Regions from separate parts of the Homo sapiens genome. Here all the other regions are reported to be linked to region 1. Evidence: microRNA targets listed by miRTarBase, many of them from high-throughput screens and not tested one by one. Region 1 holds a microRNA gene; each other region holds the end of a gene's coding sequence.

Region 1 (4,148 bases):
CATATTTTTAAGGACCCATCTTTTTTGGTAACTCATCAATGGCCATTTACTACCAGTACTACTACTTCTTAAGTAAGTTATGAATATTTGTGGATAAGGTACAGAATAAGCCTTCCATTTCACTCAATACAGGAATTTAGAAATTGCATCGTCTTGTACGTAGACCAGCACTGCATGCACATTTCTCCACTAGATGGCAGGACAGGAATGGAGCGACATCTGGGCTCAACCTGCTTACATGCCCAATCCCGGACTACTTCTATGGGTATAGGGGAAAAACTGACATCTTCAAATTGAAAAGAAAATGATCACAATAAGGGACCAAATACTGAACCAGAAATCAGCAACACTCATAGGCACTCCCCTCACTATATCAGAATGAATAATTCCATTCCTATGCAACTTAAGTAACAGATATCTATAAAGTAATTTTGTTTATAGCTATAAAGTAATTTTCTATGTCTTTTGAAAAGACAACCTTACAATAAAAATAATCATTTTATCTTCTTGTAGGATTAAGTCATCTGTTTGAAGTCTTTTATGGGAAAAGGTAGCATAATAAGGAAATATGGATAATATACATTCTATTTCCTATAATCAGATGCTATATGTTAAGTATTTGCATTTATTTTAATGATCGTGATCCGGATAGACACTGATTTGTTTCTAGTATTGCCAGATTTCTTATCCTAGAGTAATTATATACCAAATGCCTTGACTGGACCACAGGAAGAATGTAGTGAGGGGCTTGTTGTCCTCCCATGTCCCTCCATGTGGTACTGTCCAGCTTAAGCCGGTAAAGCAGCCTGGCTCTGTGAGGCTGGAGATGGGGCAGAACAGAAGCTAAGCAATGTACCAGAGTCAGACTCGGGGAGCAACTACTCCCAAAGTATAAAATTTTCATTATTTTCAGGTAATGTTTTGATATTAGGGATGTCAAACAATGGAAGATGGTGAAAAAATATTCAAAGAAGTGGAAAGCAAGATCTTGAAACTTTTAAAGAAGACACTCATTGGGTAATGCCTTCTTAAAAATATACTCATCCCCCTATCCGAAAATAAACAATTTTTTTTTATTCATTGTGGCCAATGTAAAACACATCCCAATGCAAGAAAATTGTAAGTAGCTTCTTAAAAAATGAGCTTCAGAAACAGTGCAAGTATAATTAAAAGTTGAACGGTGCAAGCCCACCTCCATCCTTGCTATCCTGGATTCTGAGGACATCAGAGTCTTTTAGACCTCTAGAGAGGATAACAGGTCTGAGGTGTGGGGACACACTAGGCTGTCATGTTTGCACTCCAGATCTCTCCTGATACCAGCCTGCAACCCAAACCCACTCTTTTCTCTCCTCCAAGAATGGGAGCCTTGAGAAGGGGCCAGCACAGTAGAGAAACCTATAACACTGCATCCTTTGTTGGCCCCATCCATTCTGAGGAAAAGAATGCCTGGACTGTGAGAGAATCCTACACAGAGATGATAATGGGAGATGAGGGGGGTGGGTGTTGGAGTTCCTTTTCTTATTCCCAACACCAACATCAATAGGCCTCTTTTCCCATTTAATATTTCTGATACAAAGAATGCTCTGCTTTGGTCAGGTGGGTTGCAAAGAATTTCATTCTGCAAAATTTAGTAGGTAAAATGATAGTGAACATTTTGATAGCAAATGCTCTTAAAAAAATCTTGGGATATCAAATGTGATCTCTGACTACTGCTAATATAGTTAACCAAGACTTATTAAACAACAACAACAAACAACACTGAAAATATAAAGGTCACCATTCAAAATAAAAATGCACCAATCATTGTTTTCACTGATTTGTTTGGCAAGAGGCTTGCTTCAAACCCCAATTCCACAATTTGCTGTATGATCTTAATGATGCCACCTATTCTCTCTGAGGCCCAGCTTCCTCATCTCTAAAAACACTTACGATACTTTACAAGCACACTGCAGAGATTAAATGAGATTAAATATATAAAAGTGCTTTGTCAACTAAAAATTATGCTGTTCTCTTCCCTGGCCATGATATCTGATAAGTAATACACAGATTATGGACTGAAATGATATCCACATTGAGAAAAGGAAAAAAAAAAAGGTCATTCTGCACCAAGATATTTTCTCTCAGTTGTATTTGTTCACTATGTTTTGGACTTTTCAGAATAAAGTTGTTTAAAATACATAAATGAAAAGTAGTACCAAAAATGTTCACATGCAGCATCAAATCTAGTTTTCAGTTTTTCAGAAAACTCAAATGATTTCCCAGATCATCTAGAAGGGTATAAACTACAATTACGCTACAGAAGCAATAGAGAGATCAATGTCAAGGCAATGGTTCTATTTTTAAAATCTCAAAAGATGCCTTCAACACAGTGAAAGTTCAGGAGAATGAAATAAGCACCCAGAAGGGTGTATTCATTTCCACTGAGATTCTGCAGTATCGGTTTTTCTTCATTGTGAGCTTGATTAATTTTGCCAGTACAGTTACAATTAAAATAAGTAAGCAAAATTTGAAACCCTGATTTGACTTTGAAAAGTTAAATTTTCAAGGTTCTTAAGACCTTCAAGGAACTGAACACAAGCAGCAGGGACATCCCGAGGATATGATGATGGCAAGGTACTGAGGAGATATGGAAAGTAACCACGAGATAGAAAAAAAGGACAAAAATAATAAACGGAGGTGAAACTCTCACCAGAAAAAAAAAATCACTACGGAAATGATATCTAAATCTTTCTTACGTTACAAAAGAAATTTGATTAATGGACTTGGAAACCCACCTAATTTCTGGGTCACTATTTGATAAATGATTATTTGATAGCCATGACCAGCTGCTATGTACCATATCTGACACTTGGGACATATCAAAGAATAAATAAACAAAATGTTCTGTCTTCAGAGAGTTTATATTTTTTAATGAGGCCGTACCTACAGTAAGTAGATATGGGGAAATGAAGAGCAGATAAAGTATTGAAACCTGGCCTCAGATTCATCAGGTACCAATATTTTATCTACTCTTCACTCCCCCAAATACAGCCTGCCTTGGGTGCCTGAAACTTCCCCCTCAGGTCACAGTTATTTACCAAGATCACAACAAAGTATCTCCTCTATTGTTCTCCCCTGTGAGACCTGTTCTTTCAACAGGGCACCTACCACACTTCTTGTAGCATGTGAGTTTATTCACAAGACTTTTCTTCTCCTAGGTGTAAGATGCAGTAGGTGCTCAATACTTATTTCTTTTAATAAATCAAGAAAGCTAATAGTAATCTAAGTCTTTGAAAGGATAAACAGCAAGTACACTGCTTTATTTTGCCATTCAGTTAACAGGATAAATAACACTGTCGTTTCCCTAGAACTTTAAACAAATTATTGAGCACTTTAAAGAAATGTCTCCTTTCAAAAATCAAGCTTAGCTACTAAATTATGTGACCTACATAAACAAAAGAAAGGCAGTCTTGCTAGCTAATCTGTCTGCCTCCTTTCTTTCCAGAAAAAAAAACAAAAACAAAAAGAAAACACTCAATTTTTTTCATGATAATCAGTATTATGCCATAAAGACACAGAGACTGATGAGAAATATTTACATAGCTTCCAATTCTGACTACCAAGTAAAATTAGTAATGTGACAGCAAAGAAGTCTTGTAAGTAACACCTTAATCAAACGATTAAAGTGGACATCATCAATAATGAAGCAAGTCAAAATCACGTACCACCTAATCAGATGCAACATGCAGAATATAGCATCCCTTCTGTGATATTCCTGTAAGGATGCAAAACCTGAATCCAATTATGAGGAACAAATGATAAACCCAAATTGAGGGACATTCTATACAACAGGCCGATATCCTTCAACAACATCAAAACAATGAGAATCTAAGAAACACTGAGTAAGTGTTCAAGAAGGAGCCTAAAGACATAGCAAATAAAGGCCACTGATAATTCTGAACTGGATCCTTTCCTTATTAAGGACATTATTAGTGGCTCTCACAAAACTTCATTGAGGTGTAAAACTTAGATGGTAGTAATATATCATTGTTAATTTCCTTATTTTTATGGTTTGTATTGTGATTATGCAGAAAAATGCCCTCATGTGCACAAAATATATATCAATGTTTTGGAGGGTGACAGGGTATCATATAGAAATCTTATTGTCA
Region 2 (4,000 bases), not on the chromosome of region 1:
CATATCTTTTTCTATGTCCTATTAAGGGCCTGAGCTTTAAACTTTGTCTTAAGGTATTTTCATGTTTTTCTTATGAGTTGTTGGTAGTTATGCAAAAAAACTAAAAATATGTCAATGTGCTTTCAATTTGTTTAAATTTCTCAGGTAGAAAGCCATGTAACCTGGTAATTTTGAAAATAAGAATCAAATAAACTTATTTTTACTTGTTGCAAAATTGTTTAAAATAGTCATTTTTAAATAAATGCTGATAAGTCCACCTTTGGGGGAAAGTTCCTACTTACAGTATGCTGCTTTGCACTAATGTTGCTGATCTCTTTTCTCATTTGCATTGTTAGAGAATACATATTTGTCAGATATATTAAAAATAAAATTATCATAGTGAATATTCTTTGTTCATTTATCACATGTATTGGCTAGCATGTTGCACATCCACAATAACATTTTCTGTGGAAATATAGATGCCTAATTTTAATATCATTTCTATGCAACTTTTCCCATTTTGTGGAAACTGACATTGTCAGAGTTCATGGGACTAAAGACCATAGTTTTATTTTCATTTTGGACAAACCGAAATAATGTTATTTAGATTTAAGATGATCCTCCCTTTAGCACATTTTATCAGTGCTAATAAGAGGTAGCAAAATTGACTCCATGGAATTTCACCTAATTCCTTCAGCCCTGGGTGGAAGTGTTCAAGTTATACAATGTGCAAAAACAATTATGGGTTTGGGATGGACAGTCTAGTCAGAGAAGGTAGGGGCCTCAATAATCAGTCTTTGACCATTCAAGAGTTAACTGTATTTTCATGTGAAATATACAGCAAACTGCCTCTAAGTATCATAACAAAGGCAGACTACCTTGGAGTAAAATCTGGGCACTTTAGAGCTGAAAGCGTCCGTCAGGTTCAAAGAGCTCTTTCTGAAACAGCAAGAAATGTATTGATGCTTGTTCTTGATCTAGGATTTGCATAAATTTGGCCCTCTGAAGTAAGGTGAATGTTACATTATGCAGGGAAGCCAGATATGCAGATACTGAAAACACGTAGTAAATGCTGCTTATGAACCACAGACGCTAGTTGAGAACAAACTGTCTCTGCAGCTGGTAGGATGACAGCAGGTGGGGAGCAAGCCAGATGTTAACCTAACACCTCCCTCCTTCACTGGACATGTGGTGGTTGTAACAACTACCCCCCCTCCCCCCGACACCACCATCTTCTTGAATGGTGCCTTTTACATGAATATGGCTTATGTATATGCTAGCTGGATTTGAGAAGTTTTTAGATCAAAGTCCTGCCTTACAGCAATATTCCTTTCCAAGTAACCAACACAATGTTGATTCAGCTCTGAATGGAAGAGAATCAGGTTATTGGGAGTGAAACTTTAGTGAGGCTCTAAATCAGGGGTGCCTAATCTCTTCGCTTCCCTGGGCCACATTGGAAGAACTGTCTTAGGCCACACATAAAATACACTAACACTAACGAGAGCTGATGAGCTAAAAAAAAAAAAAAAATTGCAAAAAAAACCTCATGTTTTAAGAAAGTTTACAAATTTGTGTTGAGCTACATTCAAAGCTTTCCTGGGCCGCATGCAGCCCGTGGGCCATGGGTTGGACAAGCTTGCTCTGGATATTTTCCTCTTGGCAGCAGACAAGCCTGTTTAACTTTGCAAAATGAGTAGCCTAATCTTCACATGCACATGAGATTTCAGGCTGCGAAGGTGGGCCCAACTTCTCTCCCCCACTCCTTCTCCAAAGCATAAGGCATAACAGGTTACATGGCACAAAACAGGCACTCAAACATTTGGTGAATGAAACCAAGTGGGAAAAAAAAAGAGCACATTAAAAAAAACTCACAAGTACCTGCAATGTGGTTTGATAACATGAAAAATGGAAATTTCTTTGGTTCAGGAAGTATATCTCTTATAAGAAAACTCTGCCAATGTTAACATTAAAATGACAAAACACTAATAGGTTGTCTTTGTTTATACAACTGACTGCATATGCAAATCTGTTATGCTTCTTTTGACACGAGGTGAATTAACTTTGCTACTGTAAGGATTCCTGATACTTTCCTGATCAGACAATACATTAACACAAAAAAACCCAAACCCTTCCTTAGCACTTGGCAATGACAATGCCTTCAGTAACCTTACTTCTTAAGAACCTTGCTATAGACTTCAAGGTGGAGGTCTGCCATTTACAGTTTAGAAAGTTCTGATTTAGGCAAAACTTTGACAAGTCACAAAAAAAGCAATTCAATTCACTATTTCTTAAACAGGACAAGCTGGTATTTGGTTTTTGGTGTGGGGTCTCCATGAAATTTTGCCCCTTGTTTCTTTTGGAATACAAAAACTCTGCACTCAAAAATGAAACTGAATTTTAAGCCAAAGTAAAATGTCTGAATCAGATTCCCTAGAATAAGGTTTTTAAAAAAATTTAAATAAGTCACCACACTATAGTGGGTAAAACCATTTTTATTAACTGACCAAAGCACATCATTTTGTTTTCTGATTTGAGGTAAAATCATAAAACACAGTTCACAAGAAAATACAATGACTATTTAACCACAATTACAAGTTTGAAATCTCACTAGGTGTTCATATACTTTTACAAATTCATACAACTGTATAGTCTACTTAAGCTTAGTGTTAACCAAAAGAGCAATATCAAAGACCTAGACACTTGACTACTACTTTTGCAGTGGGTATAGTTTTATAACAACAGAATAACTGTTACCTTATGAATATACTTTACTTTAAAAACCACTTGACTAGCGACTGTACTGTTTCCTCGTGGTTCAGGGGTGTGCATGAAGGCTCTTAGGAGAGCAAACACCTGTTCCTATTCTGTATGTCCCTCCCTCATTTCAAATGAGAGTAACCAATTGAGTAAAATAACCAAATAACCATTGCCCCACCATGAACATGGGGCTTGGGAAGACAGTCCTACAATCTTCATCATATATTTAGGTTTTTAGGCCAGCCAGCTCTTTTTTTCCAAAGCTTTCTTTTGAATGTTCAGATCCTATTTTAATCCTAACTATAGACTACTGTGTTTGTGAGGGTGTCTGAGTGTCTATGTGAGGGCAAGGACAACAGTGCAGTCCAGAAACACAGAAAATATGCTTTTTTGCAGCTGAGCTCTGTTTTGAGATTTCATTTTGTTACTGGACAGCGCTTAATCCATACCAAAGTCTTTGGAACACTGCAGATTTGCTTTAGAGGTAGATAAAACAGAAATCATGCAGTTAAGTCAATTGAGAAAAAAAAAGGGATTTGTTGTCTTTACAGAACATCATGACTAAAAGTTGATCCTTTGCTCTTGGTGCACATTTAAGATTTTTACCTGTTTTGGGAAATACCCAAGTCTTCCTTGTCTCTCAGGAAAAACACATTTAAATTCATCCTGTACTAACTACAGATAGAAGAAAAACAGTATTAACATGTGTATTACAGCACTGCAGTTCACTTTCTGGATTTGTGACACACAAACACATCATGCATTCTAAGAAGTTAATTTTATTAGTGTCACTAGTGATGTTAATTAAAAAACTTATAGCAAGTGCTCAAAACTTTCTAAATATTGTAATCACTATGTTTTAAAGACAGAGTGGACTGTTACAAATGATTTTGCAAAATACAAAAATAGATATACTTCCACTGAATGCTTTAATCATTTTTCCGGGCACTCTCATCTTTTGGTTCTTCCTCATCTGAGTACACAGTGGGCTCCTCCCCCTCCTTCAGCAGTTTGCCCACGTGATGATACTTGACTGGAGGTAGAGAAGAAAACACAAATGGTCATTCTCATTCTTTCTAAAACATCATTACCACGTTTCAATTTAAAGCATTTATTAGAGGCCTGCAATATACTCAGCAATGTGTTGGGCTTCTTGAAGGATACAAAGGTGGTTTATACCACCGTCCTTGCCAACAGGGAATTTGTTTTGTTCAGAAGACAGACATATAAAACAGGTGGCAACGTCTGGCAATGAGTGTGCAAG
Region 3 (4,000 bases), not on the chromosome of region 1:
AGTCACAGCTGCTCTAGCTAGTGACTTTAGAAATCTGTTCTGGCTGTGATTGCTAAGCGTCACCTTAAGAACAGCACACTCTTGCCCTGGGGCTCAGGAGCTCGTTTGTCCTGTCTGTCCTGCAGGACTTAGAAAGGGCCGGCAGCAGGAGCAGCAGCTGGGCCGGGCAGGGGAGGTATCGGGTGGGGGCCCTAGTCTTCAATAGTGTCTCATCTCCCTCGCTGGCCTCTGTGGGGCCTGCTGAGAGCAGCCTCGGCAGCAGCACGACTGTGTCCTGTTCCTCGAGCAGGGTCCCTTGCTGCAGGCCACCCTCTGCTGAGGCCTGACCATTGCTCTCTGGCTCCAGGGGTGCAGGAAAAGCTGGGTGTGATGAACAAAGGTGTGGCGTATGCTCTGTGGGACTACGAGGCCCAGAACAGTGACGAGCTGTCCTTCCACGAAGGGGACGCCCTCACCATCCTGAGGCGCAAGGACGAAAGCGAGACTGAGTGGTGGTGGGCTCGCCTTGGAGACCGGGAGGGCTATGTGCCCAAAAACCTGCTGGGGGTGAGCACTCAGGTTACTTACTGGGAAACTAGCTGCCCGTGTCTCTGTACAGCATGCGGTCCTATCCTGCTGTGGGGCTGGGGAGGGAGGCTTCGCTTCTCTGAGCCTCAGCAGCCCCCTCTGTAGAGGGGGAGGTGCCTACTTGGCAGAGCTGGCATGAGGCTCAGGCAGGGCCCCAGGAGGTTCCCCCAGCCATGCTTATGCCATGGAGGCCCGTGCGGAGGCTGAGTGCCCCAGTGAGGGGCCGCTCAATGAGCTCGGTTCATGATGAACTTCACCAAGTGGCCCGGCTCAGCCCACCCACACTTTCCCCAATCTAGAAATCTCTGCAGCCTAGAAATTTCTCCAGTGGAGGGAGAGGTGGGAACGTGCAGGCTGCTAGCTCTGTGTTGGACTTGTGATTCCCTCAGTCCTCTGGCAGAGGGAGCTGCCTCTGCTCTCTTTGTGCCCTGCAGAGCTGCCAGGGGCTTGCTGTTGAGCCAACGTTCTTGGCCAGGCAAACACAGCAGGGAGCCAGGCAGAGACCCTTGCCCAGGGGAGCTTATGACCTTGAGAGCCACAGGCAGTCACAAGTCTTTAGGTGGCATGAAGTGTTGTGAGAAAAATAGGATATTCTGGGGGTACAAGGCACATTTTAAAGAGGGCTGGGTGGGTCTCAGTGTAGAGGTGCAGCTGAGCGTAGGCCTGAGGGACAAGGGTGCTGCACGGCTGTCCAGGGTGGCTGAGGTGAGGAGCAGGGGTCGGGTCTGGCTGGCCCTGCTCCCTGTGTGTGGCTTCCTGTCCTGACGCGGCTCCGTTGCTTCCCAGCTGTATCCACGGATCAAACCCCGACAGCGAACACTCGCCTGAACTTCCTTTTGGAGCACCGCATGGTCTTGCCAGCTACCAGGAGCCACTTAAGAGATTATTGTGCTGTTTTCCAGGAAAGCTGCAGCTAGAAAATGGTCTTAATGGTGCTCACTTTAGCAGACAGCGTCCACAATGTGAATCCTACAGTTTCCAGGTGAGGCCCTTTCTCCAGTTTGCCCATTAACTGGGAGAGGTACTTTCGCCTCCAAGGACTGAATTTTGCCAATTACTATAAATCCAAATAAATACCCACTTTCAAAACACCCACCCCTCTTGCCATTAAGAAGTCCCATAACCCCCGGTTGGTTGCCAGTGAAGACAGAAGCTCTTACTGACTTGGCCCCGAGGCCATCACCCCCTCCAGCAGTGAACACTGTCCGCCGCTGTGAGGCCTGCTCCCCTGCGACCGCCCTGCCCCCCGTCACCGAATCGGACACTCATCCTTTCTCACACTTCCCACACATGATCCTTCTTCCCTTCATCACCAAAGGAGCCTCTGTATGGAAACATGTCCAGTGTTGCTGCCCAGTGTGTATGCCTCCCAGTACCCACTCTGCTCGGCCGCCTTGGGGGTTCCGCTTCCTGTTCCAGTTCACCTAAAGGCTGATTGTGCAGGCCCAGCACTGTGGCTGGACTGCCGCGCCACGGGCACCAGGACCCCTAAGACCAAGTGACAACTGGGAGAGCCTCAGCATATACTCTTCTCCTCCGATCTCACAGCCTGTCATGCTGCTCAGTGTGGTTCTCACCCCTGCAAGCTCAAATTCAGTTCCCTGAATGGAGTCAGGTGCTGGAGGCCGTGGCAGCGGAGGGTGGTTGGGGTTGGGGCTGGGGGTGGACTGGTGTGAGGGCAGACCAGGGCCAGGTAGACGGGGCTGTTTGGTGCCTGAAGGATGGCAGACGCCTGGTGTCAGGAGGGGCCGCCACCAAGGAGCAGCAGCTGGGGCAGAGGAGCTGGGGTCAGGGGCCACCCCTCTCTGCCGATCTCCCTGCCTGGGCTGGCTGTGAGGCCACCTTTGTCCCAGGCCCAGCCTCAAGGCAAGGAGGGCGCTTCACTGAGGTGTGAATTGTACGTACAGGCTTTTTATATACCAAAAGTATTTTTTGACTAGACCATTCAAAGCTACCCGAACTATGTTGGAAATTTTTTTTTTCTCATTAAAATACAGGCCCTTAGGCTCTATTTTTCATGTATGAGTCGTGTGTAATTTATGTAAAAATGTGTGTACAGACTCACTGATGCAGCACTGTAGCCCATCACCTTGGAGCACTGACTGTACATAGTGTGGTGAAGAAAAGTGAACGCCCTTGTAGAGCAGCCCGACCACAGGAGCATGGCCGCTGCCAGCCCAGACGCTGCTGACGCTGTGTAAATGTGCACAATAAACCCGTCTCACCCCGGCGGCTGTGAGTCTTCTTTCTGGACCCAGACTGCGCTGTGGCACGAGGGTTCAGGTGATCTGGACACAGGAAGGCGAGGCCTTGTCCGTATGTTCAAAATAGTTTTTAATCATAAGCTTTATATACAAATTGCTGTACAGTCATCTTAATAAAGTGAAATAGTGAGTGAAAAGTACAAAACACAAAGCCCCCACGTTCCCCTTGGTGAAGTATCAAAGGATCACTCACAGCCCAGAAGCCCCAAATTAGTGACAAGGTAAGTGGACAAGTCTGTGAAACAGGCTAAGGCAAGTGCTGTAAACTGGCTATTAGAGGCGAACAGGCTCCACTGCAGACCAGAAGCCTGAGTTCCTACTGCCCAAACTGGTTCTGTGGAAGAATTAAATGAAATGAATATTGATGGGCCAGAACCTTCTAGTAGACCTGCGAACTCATAAAAATGGTATATATTATGCTAAAAATAGTTTAGCAGTAGTGTAGCTCAGTCTCTCCCACCCCCAATTAAGTATTGACAATACACAAATTCTAAAACATGAAGCTGTTTAAAGCATTAATAAACTGTGAACATATTGCACTAGATAAGTGAACACTCCTGTTTCTCCAAATACATGAGTGAGTTGCATTTCCCAGCACAAGCAGGATTAATCCCTGTGGTACGCAAGGAGCAGGCTCTGCTGTTCCAAGCGACTCAGTCCTGGTGACCACACGTACTCCAAGCTCAGCCCCACGTAGAGTTACTGGTCCCGAGATTCATAGAGGAGCTTGGCAGCCTGCAGATCAGACAAGATCAACACAGTGAGGCCTGCTTGGTCCTGTGCCTGGTGGAGCCAAGCCTGTGTGCATTTCAGGGGAGATGGCGTGGGCACCCCAGCTGAGGGGGAACAGGTTGTGGGGATAGGGGGCAAATGGCAGGACACAGAGCTTCCTCTGGGAAAGGCAAGCTTTTGTCTAAGCCAAAGGGCCCAGCCTCCCTGGCCTGGGCTCAGGTACCTTGTGCATGGCCACTAGCCACGCCACCGCCTGCCTCCTGCCCACAGTCACGTCCTCCACCACTGTCAGCTTCAGCTGGGTCACACCCTCCGTCCCCGGCACTGTATACTGCAGGAACATGCCTGTGGCCCGTGCGTTGCCTCCTGGAGGAGAGAGACGAGGTAAGACGGCCCAAAGGAGGCCCTGAGTGCCCAGGCGGCCACCAGCCCCAAGG

The links. The annotated mature microRNA hsa-miR-577 reads UAGAUAAAAUAUUGGUACCUG and lies in region 1 at 2,988-3,008, opposite strand. An mRNA with a match to its seed (bases 2 to 7 or 8) in the 3' UTR can be bound and repressed. Matches are read on the target gene's strand: a 7mer-m8 pairs with bases 2 to 8, a 7mer-A1 pairs with bases 2 to 7 and ends in A, and an 8mer does both.
Region 2: the mRNA of PGRMC1 is a reported target of hsa-miR-577. Seed matches in the 3' UTR shown: 8mer at 3,222-3,229.
Region 3: the mRNA of ZFYVE21 is a reported target of hsa-miR-577. Seed matches in the 3' UTR shown: 7mer-A1 at 3,372-3,378.

What each region holds. Positions count from the first base shown.
Region 1 is chr4:114,655,634-114,659,781 of GRCh38, reverse strand. MIR577 (microRNA 577) reads right to left here and starts at 3,023; the gene lies at 2,928-3,023. The region is part of intron 2 of UGT8 (UDP glycosyltransferase 8); the gene reads right to left.
Region 2 is chrX:119,242,920-119,246,919 of GRCh38, reverse strand. It overlaps PGRMC1 (progesterone receptor membrane component 1), which reads right to left. Exons shown (of 3, transcript NM_006667.5): 3 at 2,454-3,769. The coding sequence ends at 3,666. It also overlaps the pseudogene AKAP17BP. Among named protein-coding and RNA genes, the nearest start is that of PGRMC1, 8.6 kb to the right of the region's middle.
Region 3 is chr14:103,732,549-103,736,548 of GRCh38, reverse strand. It overlaps ZFYVE21 (zinc finger FYVE-type containing 21), which reads right to left. Exons shown (of 7, transcript NM_024071.4): 6 at 3,787-3,929; 7 at 2,885-3,566. The coding sequence ends at 3,531. It overlaps PPP1R13B (protein phosphatase 1 regulatory subunit 13B), which reads left to right. Exons shown (of 17, transcript NM_015316.3): 16 at 347-546; 17 at 1,354-3,354. The coding sequence ends at 1,395. Among named protein-coding and RNA genes, the nearest start is that of ZFYVE21, 19 kb to the right of the region's middle.